Homo sapiens: one gene and its partners. The protein of the gene in region 2 purifies or fractionates together with the protein of the main gene of each other region. This does not show direct contact. Each region holds a gene or a part of one and is shown on either strand. Other genes may lie near its edges. The genes, in order: UTP14A, DCAF13, FTSJ1, FAM76B, CPSF7, SGSM2 and UTP15.

The links.
Region 1: the proteins of DCAF13 (region 2) and UTP14A purify together in Homo sapiens (affinity purification with mass spectrometry; 2 studies listed by BioGRID, with this or other methods). This does not show direct contact.
Region 3: the proteins of DCAF13 (region 2) and FTSJ1 purify together in Homo sapiens (affinity purification with mass spectrometry, with the first as the bait; one large-scale study listed by BioGRID). This does not show direct contact.
Region 4: the proteins of DCAF13 (region 2) and FAM76B purify together in Homo sapiens (affinity purification with mass spectrometry, with the first as the bait; one large-scale study listed by BioGRID). This does not show direct contact.
Region 5: the proteins of DCAF13 (region 2) and CPSF7 purify together in Homo sapiens (affinity purification with mass spectrometry, with the first as the bait; one large-scale study listed by BioGRID). This does not show direct contact.
Region 6: the proteins of DCAF13 (region 2) and SGSM2 purify together in Homo sapiens (affinity purification with mass spectrometry, with the first as the bait; one large-scale study listed by BioGRID). This does not show direct contact.
Region 7: the proteins of DCAF13 (region 2) and UTP15 purify together in Homo sapiens (affinity purification with mass spectrometry, with the first as the bait; one large-scale study listed by BioGRID). This does not show direct contact.

Annotation. Positions count from the first base shown.
Region 1 is NC_000023.11:129,916,164-129,919,663, forward strand, and holds part of UTP14A (U3 small nucleolar RNA-associated protein 14 homolog A), read left to right. Parts: intron 1-3,011; coding exon 3,012-3,131; intron 3,132-3,231; coding exon 3,232-3,326; intron 3,327-3,500. UniProt on the Homo sapiens protein: May be required for ribosome biogenesis.
Region 2 is NC_000008.11:103,432,386-103,435,885, reverse strand, and holds part of DCAF13 (DDB1- and CUL4-associated factor 13), read right to left. Parts: intron 3,228-3,500; coding exon 3,145-3,227; intron 261-3,144; coding exon 96-260; intron 1-95. UniProt on the Homo sapiens protein: Part of the small subunit (SSU) processome, first precursor of the small eukaryotic ribosomal subunit.
Region 3 is NC_000023.11:48,479,199-48,482,698, reverse strand, and holds part of FTSJ1 (tRNA (cytidine(32)/guanosine(34)-2'-O)-methyltransferase), read right to left. Parts: intron 1,549-3,500; coding exon 1,496-1,548; intron 1,411-1,495; coding exon 1,357-1,410; intron 1,274-1,356; coding exon 1,171-1,273; intron 1,068-1,170; coding exon 984-1,067; intron 297-983; coding exon 193-296; intron 103-192; coding exon 1-102. UniProt on the Homo sapiens protein: Methylates the 2'-O-ribose of nucleotides at positions 32 and 34 of the tRNA anticodon loop of substrate tRNAs. Requisite for faithful cytoplasmic translation.
Region 4 is NC_000011.10:95,779,783-95,783,282, reverse strand, and holds part of FAM76B (protein FAM76B), read left to right. Parts: intron 1-18; coding exon 19-218; intron 219-3,334; coding exon of another isoform or gene 3,335-3,356; coding exon 3,357-3,404; intron 3,405-3,500. UniProt on the Homo sapiens protein: Negatively regulates the NF-kappa-B-mediated inflammatory pathway by preventing the translocation of HNRNPA2B1 from the nucleus to the cytoplasm.
Region 5 is NC_000011.10:61,405,976-61,409,475, forward strand, and holds part of CPSF7 (cleavage and polyadenylation specificity factor subunit 7), read right to left. Parts: intron 1-3,500.
Region 6 is NC_000017.11:2,372,001-2,375,500, reverse strand, and holds part of SGSM2 (small G protein signaling modulator 2), read right to left. Parts: intron 3,312-3,500; coding exon 3,247-3,311; intron 3,159-3,246; coding exon 3,013-3,158; intron 2,549-3,012; coding exon 2,420-2,548; intron 2,171-2,419; coding exon 1,988-2,170; intron 10-1,987; coding exon 1-9.
Region 7 is NC_000005.10:73,572,243-73,575,742, reverse strand, and holds part of UTP15 (U3 small nucleolar RNA-associated protein 15 homolog), read right to left. Parts: intron 3,255-3,500; coding exon 3,119-3,254; intron 1-3,118. UniProt on the Homo sapiens protein: Ribosome biogenesis factor. Involved in nucleolar processing of pre-18S ribosomal RNA. Required for optimal pre-ribosomal RNA transcription by RNA polymerase I.

The DNA of each region.
Region 1 (3,500 bases), on a different chromosome or scaffold from region 2:
CAGGATGGTCTCGATCTCCTGACCTCGTGATCCGCCCACCTCGGCCTCCCAGAATGCTGGGATTACAGGAGTGAAAATTTCATAACTTTCGACTATCACTCTCAACCCCTTCTTTGAAGCTCCAGTCTCATATTCCATGTGACTAGCAGGGATCACCTGGGTCCCCCATATGCACCTTAAACTTAGTCCAGTCCAAAGTAAGCTTCGCATTTCCTTTCCCCAGACTTCCAAAACCTATACCACCCCCTTCATTCTGCAACTCAGTTAACAGCATAACTCCCTACCCCAGTCACTTAGGTTGGAAACCTCAGTCATTTGATTCCTTCTTGACCCCTTCACTGTCTCCCTCTCCGCCAGCTTATACAGGGGGCTAGACCTGCAAATTCTGTCTCTGTAATAGCCCTTATGCTCCTATTTTCTCTTCATTTTCATTTTCACTGCCCTAATCGAGGCCCTCATTGAACCTTTCCTTTGGAACTTTACATATATCCTCTACACAATCAGCAGGATTTTCTTGCTGAAACACAGTTGATCATTGCTCTCCTGCTTAAAATCCTTCAAAGGCTGTTCACTTACAGAATAAAATAAAATTACGTAGCATTTTAGCTATGCTGGACAACACGTTGTTCTATTACATACCACTCCTTTCCCTGTGTCTGTGTTTTTTGCTTATGCTCATCTGTTTGGATTTTTTTTCCTCCTGACAGAATTGTACTTAGGCCTCAAAGCCTAATTCAAAAGGTCACTTCCTTCCCTAAGCCTAACCTACCTCCCAATAATATTTAATGGTAATTTCCTCTGTGATTACCCCTATAGAATAACGTAGCAGTTATGTTATTTAAGGGTAACATAAAGGGTATTTAACCCATTATGTTATGCTGTTTGTGTTGTATATGTCTCTGCTCTCAAAGGCTGTGAGCTCTATGAGGACAGGAACTATCTTAATCAATTGTGTATTCCTAGCACCCCATACAAGTGCCTGGAATATAGCTACAATCAATAAATGTTTGTAAATTGAATTGAATTGAAGGGACATTACAACATTGTAGTATAAATCACTTTGTAGCCTGAGATTGATCACTACTGCAAATACTAAAAGTGGAAGAACATATACCTTTACTATTCAGTAGAATAGTTTTATGGTTAAATCAATAGCATCGTGTAACATGTGATGATGTGCGTTTATGCATTTATCCAAATATTTGTAAGTTTAATACTGACCACGATGTATATGGCTATTGAAGAAAACCACACATAATATGTGTGTGAGGTTTGAAACTAGCTCTGTTGCCTAGGGCTGTCTTTGTGCCTTGCCAGAATGTGGACCGTGGCATGATCGGCCTGAATATTTAGCCATCCTCATGATAGCATGTGGAATAACTGGTTTACAGTTCATTCGTTTCATACATACTCTGCCTAGCATGTAAAATTAACTGGAAACTGAGGAATTGGAGCCAAAGTTAGAAAATGAGGAGAGTTCAACTTGAACCATCAGGAAACAGGCTGATTACATGAAGGTCTTTTTGTTTGTTTGTTTTTAACATAATAAATAGAGATGGGGTTTCACCATGTTGCCCAGGCTGGTCTCAAACTTGTGGGCTCAAGCAATCCTCCTGCCTCAGCCTCCCGAAGTGCTGGGATTACAGGCCTGAGCCACCATGCCCATCCTATATTTTTTTTCAGGCAATATCCTTTTGTGCTCAAGAAATTAAGACACACACCCCACCACAAACTACATTTGAAGACTCTGCCAAAAAAATGCCATGTTTTTTCTCATTTTCTTTCATCAGTAATTAATGATACCAAGAACACTTATATGCATGGTTTATAGCAGTTGGCTATGGTCAAAAAAAGTTGGGCTTCCCCTCTGAGACATTTGCAGATATATGTCCTAGGTATACCATCAGTGGCAAATAATGCTTATCTTAAGATCTAATCTCACAGGGCATGCTGGGCTCACGCCTGTAATCCCAGCACTTTGGGAGGCCAAGGCAGGAGGATGGCTTGAGGCCAGGAGTTTAAGACCAACCTGGGCAACATGGCAGGACCCTGTCTCTACAAAAAATAAAAAAAGTTAGCCAGGCATGGTGGCTTACACTTGTGGTCCCAGCTGCGCAGGAGGCTGAGGCAGAAGGATCACTTGAGCACTAGAGGTGGAGGTTGCAGTGAGCTGAGATTGGAGTGCCAGTGGACTCCAGCCTGGGTGACAGAGCAAGACTCTGTCTCAGAAAACAAAAAAAAAAAAAAAAAAAACTAACCGCCCCTTCCCTCTAGAAATATTCTAAAAGAAGGCTTATGATATGAATTTGAGATTCCTAACTATAAAGTAATAGTTATGTGCTTCAAATGATACATAACAATACAGGGACTCAAGGGCAATGTGCCTAGATTCTTAAGAGAATGGAAATCAGTTTAACATATATTGGTAATCTGGGCCGGCGCGGTGGCTCACGCCTGTAATCCCAGCACTTTGGGAGGCCGAGGCGGGCGGATCACGAGGTCAGGAGATCGAGACCATCCCGGCTAACACGGTGAAACCCTGTCTCTACTAAAAATACAAAAAATTAGCTGGGCGTGGTGGCAGGCATCTGTAGTCCCAGCTACTCGGGAGGCTGGGGCAGGAGAATGGCGTGAACTCAGGAGGCGGAGCTTGCAGTGAGCCGAGATCACGCCACTGCACTTCAGCCTGGGCGACAGAGCAAGACTCCATCTCAAAGAAAAAAGAAAAAAAAAAACATATATTGGTAACCTGAACACAGTGATCCCCCTCAGCAGTATTAGAGAGTAGCCTCAGCGTCTCCCTGCTGAAGTTGTCTTATATAAGAATCAAATAAGGCTTTATTTATACTTCTGACAACAAGACTGGAACCCCCTTCTCTTGCTGTAACAGCCAATCCTATCCACTTATGATTCCAATTATAGTGTCATAAGTTAGAGAATCATAGGAATGTAAAGAGAGAAAGCTGTAAGAGCATGGCTTAAGACTCAGAATGTTTTGTTGCTTCTTTAAGGCAAGAACTCCCCTGGAGCAGGAAATTTTCAACCTCCTCCATAAGAACAAGCAGCCAGTGACAGACCCTTTACTGACCCCTGTGGAAAAGGCCTCTCTCCGAGCCATGAGCCTAGAAGAGGTAAGTGTGTCATAGGCCCTTCAGCACACCCAGGCATGCCACGCTTCTCCTAGCATTTGTCCTCTGGCCCAGGTGTCACTGTAAGTCTCATTTGTTGTAGGCAAAGATGCGACGAGCAGAGCTTCAGAGGGCTCGGGCTCTGCAGTCCTACTATGAGGCCAAGGCTCGAAGAGAGAAGAAAATCAAAAGTAAAAAGTAAGGAGGCCCCTGTGAACTGGCCTTGGGTTCCACAGAAGAAAGTCATGTGGTTCATCATGAATTCTTTGGAGAGAACCTTTGATGCAGCAACTAGAGTCATGCAGATGAGGTCCCAAACAGGAGTGACTAGCCTTTTGTTCCCCCCAAACCAACCTCATACAGTTTTGCCAA
Region 2 (3,500 bases):
CACAATGATGAAATCGCCCAATGACTCATTTCTCAGAATGCATCCCCATTGTTAAGTGACATATGAATATAAATGGCTTACTGGTAGGCACATACCTGCTTCGACTTTTGTCTACAGGAAAGATTCGAATAGATTTATCGAAACTAGCAGACACAAACTCCTTCCCAGTGGGAGAGTAATCCACATCAAGCACTGCAGATACATGATCCATATGGACCATTACAGGAGTGTCCAGTGCACGCATATCAAAAGTATATAAGCTGTAAAAGAATTTTTAAATATTTGACACATATTTCTAGAAAGATGCCATATGCAGTACTAAAAGATACCACTGAAAACAAGAACCATTTGCAAAACAATGCACATCTAAACAAAAAGCTCAATGCTGTACACAAGCAGGTGAGGGATAAGGAAAAATTTCAACAGTTTTTATGATTCCTTAAGACTCCACTTATATATATACCAACACATTTTCCACCCTATAAATCTCATTGTAGAAAATGTGGAAATTTCAAAAAAAGTAGAGTACAAAAATTACCTTGAATTCTACTACCCAGAGGCCAGTTATTTAGTACAGCATAATTTTTTAAAAAACCTTTTTCACCATACTATTTAAATACATACTTTTAATAAAATTGAAATGTTATGTAAAGCTTTATATTCTGATATTTCACGTAGCATATTAATGAGCATTACCCATGTTATTAAACAATCTTTGAAAATATTTTAATGGCTGTATATATAAGTTCAAATAATTTATTTCCCTATATTTTAATAGTTTCCAACATTTTATTATATATAATGCTTATTAAATTCCCAACGTTTGGATTTTTAACATTCAATCTTTAACTGAATGGGACAGGTTCAATTAAATCTGGACAGATTCCTACAAGTAGCATTGTTAAGCTTAAAGGCATGAGCATTTTTAGGCTTGATTTGAGTTGCCAAATCACTGCCAACAAAGTTGCACTAATTTATACTCCTACTGGTGATATGTAAGAGTGAACATGGCCTTTCAAAGGGTGAATCAAAATGAGAAACTATACTTTATGCACAATTGGTAAAAACAATGACTTCATGAGTTTCAAGATTCAAAAATTCTTAATCTAATGGCTAAAAGAATAGTGCTTCAAATGAACCAACATGAACAATGGACAAAAGTAATACAGCAATATTGTGACCAAGTTCCTAATATAAAAATACTTGAAGATGCTAAGATTAGTGAGTAGAAGTCTGAGAAGAGGATATCTACATAGTTTCAAAGTATCTCCCCAAAGATATATAATAATTACAAAAGGAAAAAAAAGTAACTCTTTAGTGGAGAAACCTGGCAGACACCACCCTAACCAAATGATCAAGGTTAACATTACTAGTAGTAAGACATTGACAACTGCTTTACAGTTCCTGCCTAAGAACAGTGGTTTTCAGCTAGGTTTGCTTGGTTCCAGCAAACTGCTTTTTAGTAAGATGCTTTATTTCTACATGGGAAAAATGATAAGAATTCCAATTCTAAGCATATCAATTTGTGTACATGGAAAACCTTTAAATAAACAAAGTTCCACATTATAGGATTCATTAGGGATCATCTATTCTAACCCTCACCTTACAGATGCTGAAACTATGATATAGAGTTAGTTTAAATGACTTGCCCAAGTTTATACAGTAATTACTGGTCGGCCTAGACTTGAACTTAGGTTTCTAATTCAGAATGACTAGAATATCTAAAGGGCAATAAAAGAAAAAAATACTTACAAATATAGAAAAGGGATACAAAAGCAAGATCATTTTCAAAGAGCAATTATGATACTCCAACAGTCACTTATTATAAGGGATATGCTCTTTGTTTCAGGTGGCATATGCAATTCTTTTCAAGGCAAGGAATGAGAAATTCCGAGGACACTCTGAAAAACGGTACCTTGCTAAAATAGCTTATTAGAACATTCTTTAGAAATCTTAATGAGGTTGGTCACAATAATGCTGTATTACTCTTGTCTTTTATTGCCTTTAACTGGAACAATGCCACTTAATTTCAAAACATCAATAAAGGTTAAAAAAAAAAGCTTCAATTACTGTGGTTTGGTATTGCTAGTTAATGAGAGTCTAACTGAGCTTCTTTTATTTTTTTAAGACACCAGGGTCTTGTTCTGTTGGCCAGGCTGGAGTGCAGTGGCCCAATTACAACTCACTGTAACCTCAAACTCCTGGACTAAACCTCTTTTTAGCAGAAAGTCATAAAAGATGCTTTTAGTTGGTACCACTAAAACATCATATAATAAATCCTTTTATGAGCTAACACTACTACTTTTTTGCTTCCAAATCTACATAGTGGAACATAAAACAATACAAAGATCTAAAGTTCAATCCACCAACAAACTTCTGCCTTCTTAAAAAAAACATGTATTAAGAATCTATCAAAGGCATAGCGCTATAATAAATGCTTTGGGAAAAAAAAAGATAAGATACTCTTTCCTCCCTGGGAGACTAATCTCCCCGCTTTAATATCTTAAAAAGGGGATAACATGCATGTCCCACCTACCTCATATGGATACTGAAAAGATAACTATAATTTTTCTTCCATCTGACTGAACAGTGATAGCTGATAACATGACCACATGAGCATCAGCTACCTGATACTCACCGCAATACAAACATTGCAGGCAGATATTTTCATTTCCATTAAAACATGTATGGTTCAGTCATTATTTATAAGACCTACATCAAACATCAGCCAACTTCTTCTGTAAAGGGCCAAATGTTAAACATTTTCAGGCAAGTGGGCCATAAGGTCTCCGCTGCAACTATTCAACTCAGGCATTATAGCACAAAAGCAGCCATATCCAATATCTAAATAAGTAAGTGGGTGTGGCCATATTCCAATAAAACTTTATAAAAAACAGGCAACAGAAAGGATTTGGTCCACGAGTTGTTTACTGTCCCTGGTCTACATCATTCTAAATACTGACGAAATAAATACTTTTCTAAGAAGTTCTTCTCCAATTTGGAAAACTTTTTAAAGCTAAACAGATGACAGTTTTCAAACTTTATAGGTATACCTACCTAGTGGTATATATTTTATTAGTACGACTTATACAATTAAGCCATTCATGATAGAAATACACAAGTTTTTAAAAGAGGGAAACTTACTTATAATCTTCATTTGCTGCTGTAAAAATGAAAGCTTCCATAGGGTTCCAACAGATTGTATTTGTTCTCATATCTAAGATAACCTGAGAAAGGAAGAATGGATGAATTTCCCACTTCCTTTCCTTTTCTTTTCCCCACTGATTTAAGCAAATATTTCATAAACACCTATTATGTGTAAAGTACTCAGCTCAGTGCAATGGGAAGAGAAATCAATCAGTAATTGCTTCTTAAATACACAGGCAGAATAGTAAATATAAAAATAGAAATGCTTAACTCCCAGTCTCCTAATCTCAAACAACTTACAGTTTAGTCAGAAAAATGTGACACATAATAAAAGTTAAAATATAAACAATAAA
Region 3 (3,500 bases), on a different chromosome or scaffold from region 2:
GGCCAGCTGCCCCTTCCTCTTCAACGTGCAGGCCTCCTGGTATGGTGGCGAGATGGGGGGCTGTGTGGGTGGAGTGTACTTGTACTCTGAGCCGCCCTCTAGCTGCAGGGACAGAGGGGTAGGGAGATGGTGAGGACCTGGTAACCTAGGACAGCCTCCCTCCCACCCACCTACTGTTGGTTGGGCACTCACGTCCAGTGGGTAACTGCGGTCCGAATCATAGGAGCTCAGGTCCCCACAGGTCACAAAAGGCACAATGATGCGGGTGGGACCATCCAGCTGGTTGAAATCTGGGTCTTAGGAACAGGGGGAGACAACTGAGGACAAGGTCAGGATGCCTGGGGCCAGTCATGACACAGGCGGCGGTATGGCTGCCAAACCCTCCCCACATATCCACCAGCTACTCTCTTCCCACCCCACCAGAAATCCTTCATTTGGTTCAGATCACCTCCTCGGGGAGGCCCTCCATAATCACCCCTTCTAAAACATCGGTGCCCTGCTATTTTTCACTGCATTTATGTCCACCTGATATTGGATTATATGCTGCCTGGATGACGTCTCCCTCACTCAAATGTCATCCCAGGGGCAGGCTCTGTCTCTTCCTGCTAGAGGCTTAAGGGGCAAAAGTTTCACACCGAGGAGGTTTCCACCTGGGACATGACTGAGATCTTCCTAGGAGAGAATGTCCTTAGGCAGGTGGAGTCTCCACTGGGGCAGGGCTCAGGATCCTCCTGGGATGGAATTTTCACCAGGCCCAAGAGTTACCACTAGAGGACTGCCTGGGCTGAAGCTCCTCCCGGGACAAAATACCCATAAAGGGGTGGGATTTCCATCAGAGAATGGGGCTAAGGATCCCCTTGGGAAAAAAATTCCCATGAGGGGACAGAGCCTCCCCCAGGGGGTGAGACTGTGGGCCCTCATGGGACCTAGATTGCATAAGGTGTGGCAGAGTCCCCCAGGGTGGCCCATGCTCCAGCTCTCACCGTAAGAATGGTCCAGCAGGGGTTTGCTCAGGTCCGGGATGAAGCCCTCGGGAGGGTCATAGCCCTGACAGACAGCGAAGGCCTCTGCCAGGGGAAGGTGGAGTGAGGCATGACTGCCGCTTCCTCCTCGTGCAGTCGGCGTCCCAGAGATCCCCCTCTGCCTGCCTGGCCCCTCCACCCCACTGACCGATGCTAGAGTTCCGGCTGCTCCTGGGCTTGGCACACAGCACGCTGGAGAAGAAGACCTGCAGCTGGCTGTAGAGGAGCGTCACATCCCGGCCTCGGAATATCTGCAGGGTGAGAAGGCAAAGACAGCGGGTGAGGGTGGCCCTCAGCGACCTCCCTCTACTCCACCAAGTTCCTTGAGACTTACCTTGGCCACAAAGCAGCCCCCTGGCTTCAGGACATGTGTAGCAATGTTCAGAGCCTGTGGGCAGGACAGACGGCTGAGGCTGAGGTGGAGACAGCCAGGAGGGGGCCAAAGTGGGTCAGGGGTGGCCAGGGTTACTCACAGCTAGGAGGAGCTGGGCCTGCATATACTCATCAACATCATGGAGACCGGTTACTGTGGCAAGAGGAACAGCGTTAGGGGGGTCCCATCTGGCTCTGTGCATCTTCTTGTACCACACAGATCAGACACTAAATACATTTTCCAGGCTGTCTTACTGCTAAGGTTCCAGATGCAAATTACTGTCTGCCAACTGGATGCATATTCTGAGCTCCTAACCCTTAGGAACTCATTTCAATTCTAAAACAACCTCACACACAAGCATCATTATCATTTCCACCTCCAGCCCAGACTGTTCCTCTGAACTCCAGATTCACAAATCAGATTCTACATCTCCAATACATCCACAACCAAACTCCTGACCTACCTCCCCAAACCTGCTCCTCCCACCATCCTCCCCATCTCATCTGAGCTTTCTAATTGTTCAAATCCAAAACCTTAGTCACCTCTGATGCTCCCCCCGCATCCTCTCCTCACACCCACATCGAAGCCATTAACACATCTACTTTCAAAAGATCTGACTTGATCTTCTCCTCTCCACCACTGCCCTCACCCATTATCACTTGCCTGGACTACTCCACCCCGGAGCCCCTGCTTCTGCCCTTGGCCCTCACACAGCTCATAGTAGCCCAAGCCCAGCACAGTCCTCTTCTCCTCACAACCCTCTCATGGTTTTCTCCAAGCTCTCATCTCGGTGAAAATGCCAACAGCCTCACCATGGCCCACGAGGCCCTATAGGATCTGTCCCCTGTTACCTCTCTGATGTTACCTTTTACCACTCTCCCCCCCTCACTCTGTTCCAACCACAGTGATCTGCTTGTCATTACTCATACATAGCAAGCACCCTCCTGCCTCAGGACCTTTGCACGGGCTGCAATTTTTCCTGGATTGCTCTTCCTCCAGACATATCCATAGCTTACTCCCCCACCTCCTTTAGTCTCTGCTGTTAAGTCAGTGAGGCCTTCCCCATCCACTTGATTTAAAATTCCAACAGGTACTCCTGCTTTCCTCCTGCTCAATGATTTCCCTATGGTACCCATCCCCCACCCCACCTTTTTTTTTTGAGACGGAGTTTCGCTCTTGTTGCTCAGGCTGGAGTGCAATGGTGCGATCTCAGCTCACTGCAACCTCCGCCTCCCGGGTTCAAGCGATTCTTCTGTCTTAGCCTCCCAAGTAGCTGGGATTACAGGCACATGCCACCACACCTGGCTAATTTTTGTATTTTTAGTAGAGATGGGGTTTCATCATATTGGTCAGGCTGGTCTCGAACTCCTGACCTCAGGTGATCTGACCACCTCAGCCTCCCAAAGTGCTGGGATTACAGGCGTGAGCCACTGTGCCCGGCCTCCTCACCCCGTTTTTTTAGAGAGAGGGTCTCACTCTGTTGCCCAGGCTGGAGTGCAGTGGTGCGATCAAAGTGTACTGTAACCTCGACCTCTTGGGCTCAAGTGATCCTCCCACCTCAGCCTCCTGAGTAACTGGGACTATGGGCATGCATCACCATGCCAGCTAATATTTTAAGACAGGGTCTTGCTATGTTGCAAGGCTGGTCTCAAACTCCTGCCTCAAGTGTTCCTCTCACCTCATCCTCCCAAAGCACTGGGATTACAGGTGGAAGCCACCATGCCTGGCCCCATCCCCTTTTAATGGTACAGAGCTGAATCATTTATTTTCTTTCCCATTTGCTCCCACTAGAACATCAGCTCCATGAGGTTAAAGATTAATGGAATTTTATTCATGAATGTTTTCCCAACACAATAGGTGCTCAGTAAATGTGTGTTGAATGGCTGGCTGGCTGAAAATGAATGAACAGTGCAACGGAATTGGACAGTTGCAGAGAGATGAGAGCAGGGAAAGGTAGACAACAGACATGAAACTCAAAGGGTGGGGTGCAAGTGGGAGGAAGAGAGAGGCAGAGAGAGAACAGGCAGCAGAGGTAGGGAGAAGTTGCCAGATGTGGGAGAAAGCTGAGTGCGGAAGGGAGAGGCAGGGAGTAACTGAAGAGGTGA
Region 4 (3,500 bases), on a different chromosome or scaffold from region 2:
AACACATTTTCTTAAAAGGTTGATGGAAAGTTATTATGCTGGCTCTGTACTTTATCGTACAAAAGAGTTTTACAGAAGACGAAAGAACAAAGGAAGAGCCTGGGATCTTCACATTCAAATTCATCTTCTTCATCTCTTACTGAGAAAGACCAGCATCATCCAAAACATCATCACCACCATCATCACCATCACCATCGTCACAGCAGTAGCCATCACAAGTAAGTACTTTGAAATCATATTTTCTAAAACTCTTCCTTGCATTTTAATGCCATTTATTGATGTTTACTTCTTGCAAATATTGACTATGTGCTAGTCTAGTTTCCATTGTACACAGTAAGCATCTTGAGTGTCTAAGGCTGTGTCTCCATTTTATTCAGTGTAGAATGTTATATACATGAAATATGTTGAGCTGTTTACCATAATACAGATATTTAGGAAAATCTATAAAATTATAACCATGTAAAGTCAAAATACAAGTACGTCAGTTAATTAACACTTAAATAACTTATCAAAAGCCTCAGTATTCTTTTTTTGTTTAAATAATTGTTAAGGTTTTATTTGAAAAATTATATTTTAGTTGTCAATTTGTTTTAGTAAAAACAAATCGAAACAAACCAATGACTGGGTTTGGAGAACATATTTTAATACTATAATTTGTTACTATGATAGAAGCATTTCTGATCTTTGTGGTCCCCAAAATATGAGCAATATTTTTAACTAATGATACTTTGTGTTTTTTTCAAACATATATTTAGGAACTCTACTTAAATAGAGACAACTGTAGTTTTCCCTCAGTATGCTTGAGGGATTGGTTCTAGAACCCCCTCATAGACCAAAATTTGCATATACTCCAGTTCTGCAATTGACCCTGTGGAACCTGCCTATAGGAAAAGTTGGCCTTCTATATATGCAGGTTTCACATCCTCCAAATACTGTATTTTTGATCCGTATTTGGTTGGGAAAAAAAAATTCTCCTATAGGTGGTCCCATACATTTCAAACCTGGGTTGTTCAAGGGTCAGCTGTACTTGATTTTTAAAGTGACCTGTGGGGGGAGTTATGTAGTAGTAGTAGTACCTTAACCCTTGATGTGTGTGGTATAAAGATTTTTTAAAATGCAATTTTAGTCTTCACGGAAAAATCAAGAACATGAAAATACAAATTAAACTGACAAACACAAATTAAAATGGAAAAAACGGACATATGGCATGCCCATTTTCAGAATAATTTATTGTTTGTTCTTAAATTTTTCTGTGAGTCTTTAAAGTTTCAGATAGTTATTTAAAACAGAATTTACAAACAACTGATGCCCACCTCATTTTGGAACACATGCAGTATTTTTAGAATGTAATGTAGTTCTGTCTAATTAGTAAGATTTGTTGTAAACTGTATCCAATCACCTATTAGATTATGAGGTTACGTTGAGGTTAGTGATGTTTAATTCTACCATGTTGTAGTGTTTTCTAAATGTGGCAGTGGTAGACTACAATGCAGTGTCTTCTCTTCTGGCTGTTTTGAAGAAACCTTGTGATCTTTATATCAGAGTATTTCAAGAAGCAAAATAATATAAGTCTACCTTGTTTTTGCTTCTTGCTTTAAGAAAAAATATGACAAAATGACTATATACCATAATAGCATATGTCAGACCTACTTCTAAGACTCCCAAAATGTCTCCTTTCCCTATTCTTTACAGATAAATTTGTCTTAGCATGATGTAAAAGGACACAATCAGATTATGTTTGTGAAGACTAAAGTATGTGACAGCAACTTAATTTTTTGAAAGAATGACAGGTTTCAAAAATAAAGGGAAAGAGAACAGTATTGAAAATGAAAGTCTTCAATTTTTTTACTTCTGGTTACTTATGAAATACAAACACTATTTTCTATTTGATGGCTGTTGACCATTTGATGAACAGTTACTTTGTAGGGTCCTATCTTAAGTTCAATAGATCAGAATGAAAATGAGGAGCATTCATATTGTGATAGATAGTGATCGGCAGGGGTAGGGGATGTGGTTGCCAGGTGGCACTAAGGTGGGTCTGAATCTAGGAATGGACAACCCTCAGAAAGATAAGATGGGAATTCCAAGTGTTTCTGTCAGTGATATTAATGTGATTATTCTTAACTTTGAGATATGGTTAGTGCTGTTAGTTCATGTATGGCTTGTTAGGCTTATAATGAAATTTGTGGGAAAAAAAAAAAAGGGACAACTGCATTCCTCAATAGGATTTCCATTCATTCACAAGTAAGAATAACTCACTTGATGGAATTATTGCTATTAACATTTTTTTCCCAACTTGGTACTTGTTTACAGCTGAGTCTTAAGGTTTGTTTTTTTCTTTTGCTTAAAAAACTTCTACAGCTGAACCAATAGTAAATTTTAGACACAAGTAAACATGTATATATATATATGTCTATTTTGTATATGCTAGCACTGTACTAAGTGATTTTACATATATAACTCATTTAATGCTCATATCAGTATAAGGTATGTATTACATATGAGGGAACTAAGGCTGGGGATGTTAAGTAATTTGCATAAGGTCACAGCTCAGGTATTCTAACATCTTCTAAATCGTATAAATACGTGGCATCTGGTTCATAGGAGATGCTCTCTACATGCTGAGTGAATAAGCTAGGGTTAGTGAAGCATTGACTGATATGCAAGTTTAGGAGGAAAAAAATGAAGGATTCATGATGAATTATAAAGTGATTATTAGTATTAGGGTAAAATAGAAAAGGAGTATTACAGTATTAATTATGAGTAAAAGTAAAATAATTTGTTACTATGAAATTTCTCAATAGTTTCAGCGTAACTTCTCCAGAATACTAACTAAAGAGAGCTCTATGGACTTTGGAGAGGATTCTTAAGAAAACTAGGAAAGAATCAAAGAAATCAATATATTTCCCCATTTAAATTGAAATACTATTCTGAGCAACTTGAGTTACTCCAAAAGAAGAATCTCTACTTCAGATTATTAGGAAAGCCTTAACTTTAAAGATACAAATTTTGTGTCTGAAATAGTAAGGGCAGCCAAAGTACAGTGATACCTAGACACAAGCACGAAAACTACTTGTGTAACCCACCCTTTGTATGATATTAAATTGAACTGTGGAGATCCTGATTATAAAGAATTCTTGAAGAACTTGAGATGGTTAGCAGTCATTTTATTAAAATTTATTTCATCAGAATGTGATTTATTCAATATGTATTAGCTTAGTCTGAAAACTTAAATATACCTTTCTCTGAAGAAAATATTATAAACATAAAATTTGTATCCATTGAGAAAGAATGTTAAATTTAGATGTATTAAATAAATAAATGTCATTATTAGATGTCATTTGTGTATTTTTCAGAATCAGCAATCTAAGTCCAGAAGAAGAGCAGGGACTGTGGAAACAGAGGTAAATACATTGCTGTATTTTCTGAAGTATTTTGAAATGTATATTTATAAATGTGATATCCCTTCAACTTTGTTACTTAAGTCTTACCAAAATCAG
Region 5 (3,500 bases), on a different chromosome or scaffold from region 2:
AAGCTCAGTTTTCAATGGATAACGAGGACAGGAATGACGTGAGAATGACTATATTTCAAGTAGGATAATGTCCTAAAATAATGAGATAACTGACATAGTTGAGAACTACAAAAAGTTGAAGACACAGGTTGCAGAGGATAACTTGTACACCAAGAGAAGCAAGCCATAGCACTGAATTCTTAAATCTCCATGGCTACATTTTGGTGCCAATGTTGGAATGCAGGCAGAAATCAGAGATTCCTTCAAGTGGGCCAATTAGCCTTCAGGCCCCAGAACTGGGTCTTACGCCGAGAAAAGATGGACAAAGAAGGCTACTGTTCTATTGCTGCCTCTGGACAAAATGTACCTTTCACTCTCAGGGAACAGCTGTCATCATAGAATATAAATATGATTCATTTCTAACTAAAAGGTTGCTATAAATGAGGACCATGTACCATCTTCCCAACATGAAACTTCCTAAGCCATAACTTGGTCACTACAGATGGAATTAAGAGTCCTTAGGGTGAGAATGTAAGAAATTGACATTCTTGGGGTGCCTGATTCAGTTCTTTCAGACTATTATTCAGATGCAATAACCACTATATCAAACGGGTGACCAGGAAAAGTGAGGAAGTAGAAAACCTGCCTCAGAGTTAATTTTTCCCATCTTGTCATGGGCCTACACAAGTCAAATGACTGTTTTCTAGGCAATATTGTTACAGCATTTTCAAAGTTACCAAAAGAGAGTTATCCTCATAATGGGAGAAATAGTCTCATCTTATTTTATTTTTATTACTATTTTTTTTGAGACAGGGTCTTGCTCTATTGCCCAGGCTGGAGTGCAGTGGCACAAACATGGCTCACTGCAGCCTCTATCTCCCGGGCTCAAGTGATCCTCCCACCTAAGTGCCCCCAAGTAGCTGGGACTCCTCCTGCCTCAGCACCCCCAAGTAGCTGGGACTACAGGAGCACATCACCATGCCCAGCTAGTTTTGTATCTCTGGTAGAGACGAGTGTTTTGCCATGTTCCTCAGGCTGGTCCCTGAGCTCAAGCGATCTGCCCCTCTCGGCCTCCCAAAGTGTTGAAGTTACAGGCATGAGCCACTGTGCCTGGCCCCATTTTATAAGTGGAAGAAATAATGCAAAGTGACAGCTAAAGACTCAGGTTGAGATGTTTAATTCTCAAACTACTGCTGGATCAGTGGATCTCGCTGGTAATTTCCCTGTCATAAGGCTGTCAGGAGCAAAGCCATCAGGAATGGTGACATGCATTTATGTTCTAACTACTAAACTGAATGCAGCCCCAAAGACGACAGTGCATGCTCTGCACAGGTCAATCATCACCTTCCTGTTCACTCTTATCCCAGTCAGCTCCAAAAGACATACACTGTAGCCTACATGTGCTTTTCAACCCACAAGTAACACTAGCAACTGTGCAGACTCAAACAAGAAAAGGGAGTTAGGACTGGACCAAGACCAACTCTAATGCCTGCCCTCATGCCCACCTGAGACTGAATTAGGCCAAAGTTGTTTGTGGTCTCCATCTACAATAGCGTCTGCTTTTCCAGAGGATACATGGGCATCTCCCCAAACTCAACCTGTTGCAAAATCTAGAAAGAAGTACCTGGAGCCCACAGCCTAACTGTTGATTCTACATGAGTTAACCTAGATTTCAATGATGTTAAGCACTCTAGGATTTTGTGGAATAAATGAGTGGCTAACAACAGAGAACAGAGACAAAAAATATTAGTAATTTTTCATCTTTCCACTTACTTGTTTGGGAGAAGATAAAAACAATTCCTGGCTATAAATCTATTTAAGCTAATGGCCAAAGAACAAGACAGAGGGCAGTAGCCAAACCTAAAAGGAGTATTTTGGTTTTTAGTAGGTTGTCACTGGGCAAAATACTGCTAATTTTCCAACTATTTACATTCCAGCTACTGCTCATGAACTATAGGGGCTCACAGGTGGTGAGTTTCTTTGTCCTTCTTCATCCAGATATCGCCATCCCAAAGACACCAAAAAGAACTACTATTCTTTCCCCTCACCTTCCTTTTCAATTACCATTACTTTAGATCAAGCAGGCAAATAATCAAGGACATCTTTTTTTTTTTTTTTTTGAGACAGAGTCTCACTCTGTCGCCCAGGCTGGAGTACAGTGGCGCGATCTCGGCTCACTGCAAGCTCTGCCTCCCGGGTTCATGCCATTCTCCTGCCTCAGCCTCCTGAGTAGCTGGGACTACAGGCACCTGCCACCATGCCCGGCTAATTTTTTTGTGTGTATTTTTAGTAGAGATGGGGTTTCACCGTGTTAGCCAGGATGGTCTCGGTCGGGATAGAGACGGGGTTTCACCATGTTAGCCAGGACGGTCTCAATCTCCTGACCTCGTGATCCACCCACCTTGGCCTCCCAAAGTGCTGGGATTTCAGGTGTGAGCCACCGTGCTCGGCCAAGGACATCTTCCTAATGTACTTGATGTGAGACAGAGAAATGGGAAGTCCTAGAGACTTATAAATCTGCAACCACAAAATTAAGAAAGGACCCTGAAGTTACCTGGGTCACGCAGTAGCCTCCAAGAACTACAGACAGACCCCTAGCCACTCTGGCCTATTTTAAAGATTTCCATAGAAGCAGAGACAACACCTGCTCCTATATGCTTATATAATAGAAACAATCTTTCCAGAAGTTTTCCTTCAGTTGGGATTGCTAAGCTGGTAGGATGCAACCTAAAGACACAGCACCCCCTCTGACTCCCTACCAATATGGAGCCTGTCTAAGAATGAAAGCAACAGAGAAAAGCAGAGCTGAGAGATGCAGATAAAGTCTGGATGACACAGCCAGAGCCCCTGGATCCAACCAATCTTAACTGAACTTCTCCATTACTTAAGAGTTTTTATCCCAACCTTCCTGCTTTCATTTTGCTTCAAAAGAAAATTACAGCCAGTCGCAGTGGCTTCATGCCCATAATCCCACAGCACATTGGGAGGCTGAGGCAGGGGGATCACTTGAGGCCAGGAGTTCAAGACCAGCCTGGGCAACAAAGCAAGACTCTACAAAAAATTTAAAAATTAGCCCTCAGGAGGCTGAGGCAGGAGGATCACCTGAGCCCAGGAGGTTGATGTTACAGAGCCATGATGGTGCCTCATGACAGTGCACTCCAGCCTGGGTGACAGAGTGAGACAATGTGTCTATTAAAAAAACAAAAACAAAAACAAAACAAAACAAAACAAAAAAACAGCCGGGTGCGGTGGCTCACGCCTGTAATCCCAGCACTTTGGGAGGCCGAGTCAGGTGGATCACGAGGTCAGGAGTTCAAGACCAGCCTGGCCGAGATGATGAAACCCCGTCTCTACTGAAAATACAAAAATTAGCCGGGCGTGGTGGTGGGCGCTTGTAATCCCAGCTACTCGGGAGGCTGAGGCAGAGAATTGCTTGAACCCGGGAGGTGGAGTTTGCAGTGAGCCGAGATTGCGCCACTGCACTCCAGCCTGGGCAAGAGTGAGACTCTGTCTCAAAACAA
Region 6 (3,500 bases), on a different chromosome or scaffold from region 2:
GATAAACACCTGGGGGGTGAACACAGGGCGGCTCCACCTGCACTCCAGCACCTTCCCGCAGCCCACCGCCTCCTCGGGCCAGAAGGGAGCTGGAATGCAAAACTCTTCACACCCCCTCTCCCACCACAGCCTCCAACACTGTGGCCACGGGGCACCAAGCCAGCTTCTGACCCAGCCAGCCAGGCGGAGAGAAACAAGCCTCTGGCCAAACATGAAGACACGTCTTCAGCCCTGCTTGAAGGAACAGCCCCAGGTCTTCCTGTGGCTACTGAAGGGAAGTAGGGGAGCCAGGGGGCTGAACGCTCAATGGCCAGTTTGAACTCAGTCTCATTCTAGAAACGCCTGAAGTCATGAGACCGGGAGAATGGCCTTAGTGTTTTGGTGTGGCTGGGTGGAGAGAAGCCTAGAGGTTTTAGGAAAAACAAGTTTTGCCTTATTTTCAGTACTGAGTGTTCAGCAGGACAAGACAGGAACGTTCTGTAGCAAGCACCTAGTCAGTTCCATTAGCCCTCAGGCAAGGTGGGGAGATGTAGGAAGGAAAAGCAAACATTCTGCCTCCTAGATACAGTCCACCACCATGGACAAGGCACGAGGAAAAGAAGAGACACATACAGAGACTGTTTGGGATTTTTCTCTCTCTGTTTTCACCACGTAGGGAAAGCAATGCTAAAAGTAGTTTCTACTTTGGGCAGGAAGCATGAAGTGCTGGGTAAGGCCACGGTTCTGTGGCAATCTAATACGCCAGCGAGGAGCTACTGCTGTCCATGAGCTCAGCAGCTGGGCACTGGCACAGACAGATTTTTACAAAACCCAAAGCCAGAGAGAGGGAGAATGTGTTCCTGGATAGGGGATTAAGAACAAAGCACGTGGGAAATGACAATGTGCCTTGTTTGTTCTATTTCTTTTTTTTTATTTTATTTCTGAGGCAGGGTGTCTCACTCTATGGCCCAGGCTAGAGTACAGTGGTGGTATCACGGCTCACTGCAGCCTCAACCTCCATGGCTCAGGTGGTCCCCCCACCTCAGCCTCCCGAGAAGCTGGGACTACAGGCGCACCCCAACACATGCGGCAAAGGTTTGCATTTTTTGTAAAGACAGGGTTTCGCCATGTTACCCAGGCTGGTCTCAAACTCTTGAACTGAAGCAATCCTCCCACCTCTGCCTCCCAAAGTGTTGGAATTACAGGCATGAGCCATCACACCCAGCCAGTTATATTTAACTTACTTCAACTTACATTTTCTGTTAATGTTGGTAAGGATTTAGTAAAGTAACAAGAATACACATTATCTAAAGAGGCAATTTTAAAGAAAAATTAATAAAGCGTCCTTAAAATTGAAACTTATCAGTGTTGGTTGGGCCAGGCAGTCACAGTTTAGAACTTGCTGTTCAAAAGGCAGGAGTGATGCCAGAAAGAGCTACCCTCCCGTGCTCCGAACAAGCCTGCCATAGTCAGTTCTGTACAGTGACAGGCAACATCGCGGGGAGGAAGGATCTCGCCAGTCGACACCAATGGGGCTGCTCTACGGGCTCCCCTATTCTCAGGCCCACAGATCTCAGGAAGCCTCTGCAGTCAGAGGATATGGGTGGAGAGGGGAAACTGAGACCCAGAGACGGGAAGTGCTTGCCCAGAGACATTCAGCTTGTCAGTAGTGGATCTGGGACTAGAACCCAGCGCTGCCTGTTGCTAGCTTTGAGGTCTTTCTACAAGGAGGAGGGCTTCCCTAAATCCCAGTAAGTCCATCTTTCCCTATAGTTGGCTAAAACTGAGCACAATGCACTCTCTCACTTTATTCCTACAATACCCAGAGAAGTAGGCAGCAGAGGCACAGTTAGCCATTTCCAGTTGGAGAAAATGAGACACAGGCACCTTAGGCCTTTCTCGCAGGGCCCCACCAGTTCCCAGAGGTCAGGCTGGTGCTCAGGACCACTGTGCATAAAACGCGGGTGGCCCCCGAGACCCCCAACCCTCCAGGTCCCGTCTGGCTCACATCGTTGCTGATGGTGGAGTCTCGGTGGATGAGGCGCTGCACGTGGCTGTCGATGCTGCTGCCTGAGGAGAACTTGGTGCGTGTGGCTGGGTGGGCCTCCCGCTCCCGCTGCCTCACCACCACCTCGCAGGCCTTCCACTCTGCCAACACCTGCTGGTACCTTGCTGCCACCACTGCGTCCACCTGTACTCAGACCACACCACGACCATGGGGGAAGCGTGCACCAGGCCCTCCCCTTCAGGAGCTGGGCCTGCACTGGACCTTGGGTCCTGAGTCTCAGACTCAAGACGGGCCTCAGGGTAAGGACGGTGGAGCTGCCCTGCCATGCTTCTTTCCGGCTGGGAAGGGGCTGAGGCTTCCAAGGTCCCCTCCCTGGCGTCCCCTGGCCCAGCTCCCCATCTCATCAGCCCCATGGGAACAGGCTCCCCTCACCTGCTCCATCTCCTTCTTGCTCATGCCGAACTTGTAGTGGCCAAGCAGAAAGGGCCAGACGTCCTTGCGGATCTCGTGCTCTATGCCTCCGTAGTAAACTTGCCGCAGCAGCTCCAGCTCTTTGTAGTTCTGAGGGACCCGGGGAGTCAAGACTGTGCAGCCTCCACAGTCACCGTGGCCCAGCTGGGTGAGCCCCATCCCACGGAGAATGGGCTGGGGCGGGGCCTGTAGTGACTGCTGAAGCCCAGGCAAGGCCTGCTTTGGGGTGGCCACGTCCTCCCGTGCCCCAGCTCACAGTGGGATGAGATCTCGTTCTGCTCTCCTTCCTTAAGGGGCAGGAAATGGCGCCCGGAGAGAGGCAAAGCTTTGTCCAGGGTCACAGGGCGATGTGGAGGCAGGACGGCTTCCCAGTCCAGCCCCCTTCCCGTGTCAGCCCCAGGCCCAGCTGCAAGAGATTCTGCCGGGACCCTGGTCACTCCGTGGCATCGGCCCTGGCCTGTCAACCGCACCCACTGGCACATTTTACCCTGAAGCCCTCACTCCTGCCCGCCCCAGCCCCTCGACCTGTGGCCCTGGAACCCCAGGGTTGGCACCTTTTTGTCCTTCTGATACTTGCTCCACACGTCCTTGGTGAGGCCCGCGGAGGCCCCCGGGGGCCGGTCAGGTGGGATAACGCTATGGTGCACCAGCGCCGACAGGTGGGTCCGCACCGTGGACAGGTGGCGGCAGTGTGCCAGCCCTGCGGTGGGCAGCGGTGGGCAGCAGGAGGCTGGGACCCAGGGCCGCCCGCCCCCAGCCCGCCACAGCCCGGCGCGCCCCACACTCACAGCCGTAGAAGGCCCGGGACACGATCTGCCTCTTCATACTCTCACACAGTAGCCTGAGCGGCAACCTGTGGCAACAACCGGGCTCAGCAGGGAGGGGCTGCGGCCCCTCTGGTGGGAGGAGAGAGAGAAGGGAGGAGGCTCTGTCCTGGGGGGCAGGTAAGGCACTGGGGAGGGTGCGAGGAGGAGGAGCCGCAGCCCAGCAGCCGTCAGTGGGTGCCCTGTCCCTGCCTGCCACCTGGACAGAGTGCTGTGGG
Region 7 (3,500 bases), on a different chromosome or scaffold from region 2:
CTTAAAAAAAAAAAAAGAAAAAATTATCAATGAAAGCACATCACAAAGCCAAGTGTGATGGCTCACACCTGTAATCCCAGCACTCTGGGAGGCCAAGGACAGCAGATTGTTTGAGCCCAGGAGTTCAAGACCAGCCTGGGCAACTTGAAGAAACCCTGTCTCTAAAAAAATAAATTAAAAAAAAAAAAAGAAAGAAAGAAAGTACACATGAAGCCAAAGATCAGGGATTCTCAACCTCAGAATTACTGTCATTTTGGGGCACAGAATTCTTTTTTGTGGGGGTTGTTCTGTGCATTGTAGGATGTTTAGCAGCCTTCCTGGCCTCTATCCCCTATATGGTAAGTACCATGAGTTGTGATAAAAAACAATACTTTCTCAAGATATTGTCAAACGTTCCTTGAGGAACAAAAATCACTCTTGGTTGAAACCACCACAAATAGAGCCAATTTACACTTAGCTTTTAGGAACATACCTAAGAATCAAGTCCCAAATTGCCGAGTAACATGATTTCAGTAACATGTGTAAACTTGCCATGTATTTACATAAAAAATTCCTTTGTATTAAAAATATTTTCTAGCTTTTAAAATATGTACAGTCAATCCTTCTTATGGCAGGTTCCACATCTGCAGATTCAACCAACCATGGATTGAAAATATCCATAAATATATAAACAATACAGAATTTTAAAATACAGTGTAACAACTATTTACATAGCATTTGCATTGTATTAGGTATTACAAATAAGCAAGCCATGATTTAAAGTATACAGTGGATGTGTGTAGGTTATATGCAAATATGCCATTTTAAATAAGGGACTTGGGCATCCACAACCAATTCTCCTCAGTTACCAAGAGATGACTGTATACTTTTTAATTAACATGCTGAAAACTAAAGTTTTTCATAAGAGCAGAAAAAAATGAAAATATGGAAATAAAATAATAAAAAATAGATCATGTAAGCCGGGCACGGTGGCTCACGCCAGTAATCCAGCACTTTGGGAGGCTGAGGTGGGAGGATCTGTTGAACTCAGGAGTTTGAGACCAGCCTCGGCAACATGGCAAAACCCCATCTCAACAAAAATACAAAAATGAGTCAGGTACAGTGGCGCGTGCCGGTGGTCCCAGCTACTGAGGAAGCTGAGGCGAGGGGATCGCTCGAAGCCAGGAGGTGGAGGTTGCAGTCAGCCAAGATCATGCCACTGCCCTCCAGCCTGGGCGACAGAGCAAAACCCTGTCTCAAAAAAAAAAAAAATTAATAATAAATCATGTAAATTCTAGAACTGTGCCATACTTCTAGCTGCACATGGCTACTGACCACTTGAAATGTGGCTAGTGAAAATGAGAAACTAAATTTTTTATTTTATCTAATTTTAATTTAAAAACTGAGACAGTAATTTTTATAAAATATTATCTTTTTTTTTTTAGAGACAGGGTATCACTGTAACCCAGGATAGAGTACAGTGGTACTATCACAGCTCACTGCAACCTCAAACTCCGGCTTAAGTGCTTCTCCTGCCTCAGCCTCCCTAGTAGCTATGATTAAAGGTGTGTACCACTGTGGCCAGCTAATTTTTTTAATTTTTTGTAGAGATGGGGTCTCACTATATTCCCTAGGCTGGTCTCAAACTCCTGGCCTCAAGTGATCCTCCCACCTCAGCCTCCCAAAGCACTGGGATTACAGGTGTAAGCCACTGTACCAACCTAAAATATGATTATTGTATCATAGTGCACATGTTTAGATGCTTAATTTATTTCTAGTATCTTAATAATTTTGACATAGATTACATACTGAAATTATATTTTATATGTAATATATATTTTATTTTTACATTAGATATTAGGCTAAATAAAATGTGCTATCTAACTTTTAGGTCAGGCGTGGTGGCTCATGCCTGTAATCCCAGCACTTTGGGAGGCCAAGGTGAGTGGATCACCTGAAGTCAGAAGTTCCAGACCAGCCTGGCCATCACGGCGAAACTCTGTCTCTACTAAAAATACAAAAATTAGCCGGGCAAGGTGGCAAGCGCCTATAATCCCAGCCACTCAGGAAGCTGAGGCAGAATCGCTTGAACCCGGGAAGCAGAGGTTGCAGTGAGCTGAGATCCCACCACTGCACTCCAGCCTGGGCAACAGAGCGAGATGTCATCTCAAAAAAAAAAAAAAAATTAATTTATCTAATTTTTAAAAAACTTTTCAGGCCAGGCACAGTGGCTCACACCTGTAATCCCAGCACTTTGGGAGGGCGTGGTGGGCAGACCACACGAGGCCAGAAGTTCGAGACCAGTCTGGGCAATATGGCGAAACCCCGTCTCTACTAAAAATACAAAAATTAGCCAGGCATGGTGCTGCACACCTGTAATCCCAGCTACTTGGGAGGCTGGGTCACGAGAATCGCTTGAACCTGGGAGACAGAGGTTGCAGTAAGCCCAGATTGTGCCACTGCACACCAGCCTGGGCAACAGAACAAGACTCTGTCTCAAAAAAAAAAAAAAAAACTTCAAAATATATGAATGTACAATAATGATTTTAAAAGATGGTTTATAGAATAACATTATTTGAAAGATTATCATTCAAATGGTTCAATAATGTTGTTTAAGTATACAAGTTAAAACAAATTGTGTCAAAGGAGAAAATAAGTAGCTATGGGTGGCCGGGTGTGGTGGCTCACGCCTGTAATCCCAGCACTTTGGGAGGCTGAGGTGGGCGGATCACGAGGTCAGGAGTTCAAGACCTGCCTGACCAACATGGTGAAACTCCGTCTCTACTAAAAATAAAAAACTTAGCCGGGCATTGTGGCGCGTGCCTGTTATCCCAGCTACTCAGGAGGCTGAGGCAGGAGAACCACTTGAACCTGGGAGGCGGAGGTTGCAGCGAGCCGAGATTGCACCACTGCACTCCAGCCTAGGTGACAGAGTGAGACTCTGTCTCAAAAAAAAAGAAAAGAAAAGAAGTAGCTATATGTAAACAAAAGGTCAAAACTATTTTCAACTCAACAGGTTTTTTTCTCCTGGAAATCATTATCTGTATACTTATCACAAATATTGCTGAAATAACTCATTTCCTCAAGCAGTAAACAGGTGTACACTAATAATAATATACAAAAAAATTAAAATGCCAACCTATCCAGTGAGCCAGAGAGTAACCTCTGTCCAGAGCTGCTTAGACATAAACATGTCACGGTTTTGTGATGATTTTTCAAAGATACTAGCAATTGTCCTCCTTTTAACATGTCCCAGACTTTAACATAACGACCTCCTATAAAAAGAAATCATCGTTAGTTGGATATTCTGCCCACAGATTCAACATATTAAAGATCTGAAAAGCATTCTTCTCTGGACACTCCACAAAGCATGGAGGCTGAGTGAGGGAGTCCAGGCCAGGCTGCCTGGTAAAATCCTGGATGCACCACTTCCTGGGTCATTGGTAATAACAGTTCCTACCTCACAGAACTGTTATGACCATTAAATAATATTTGTGAAGTGTACATAAATTCCAGCAAAA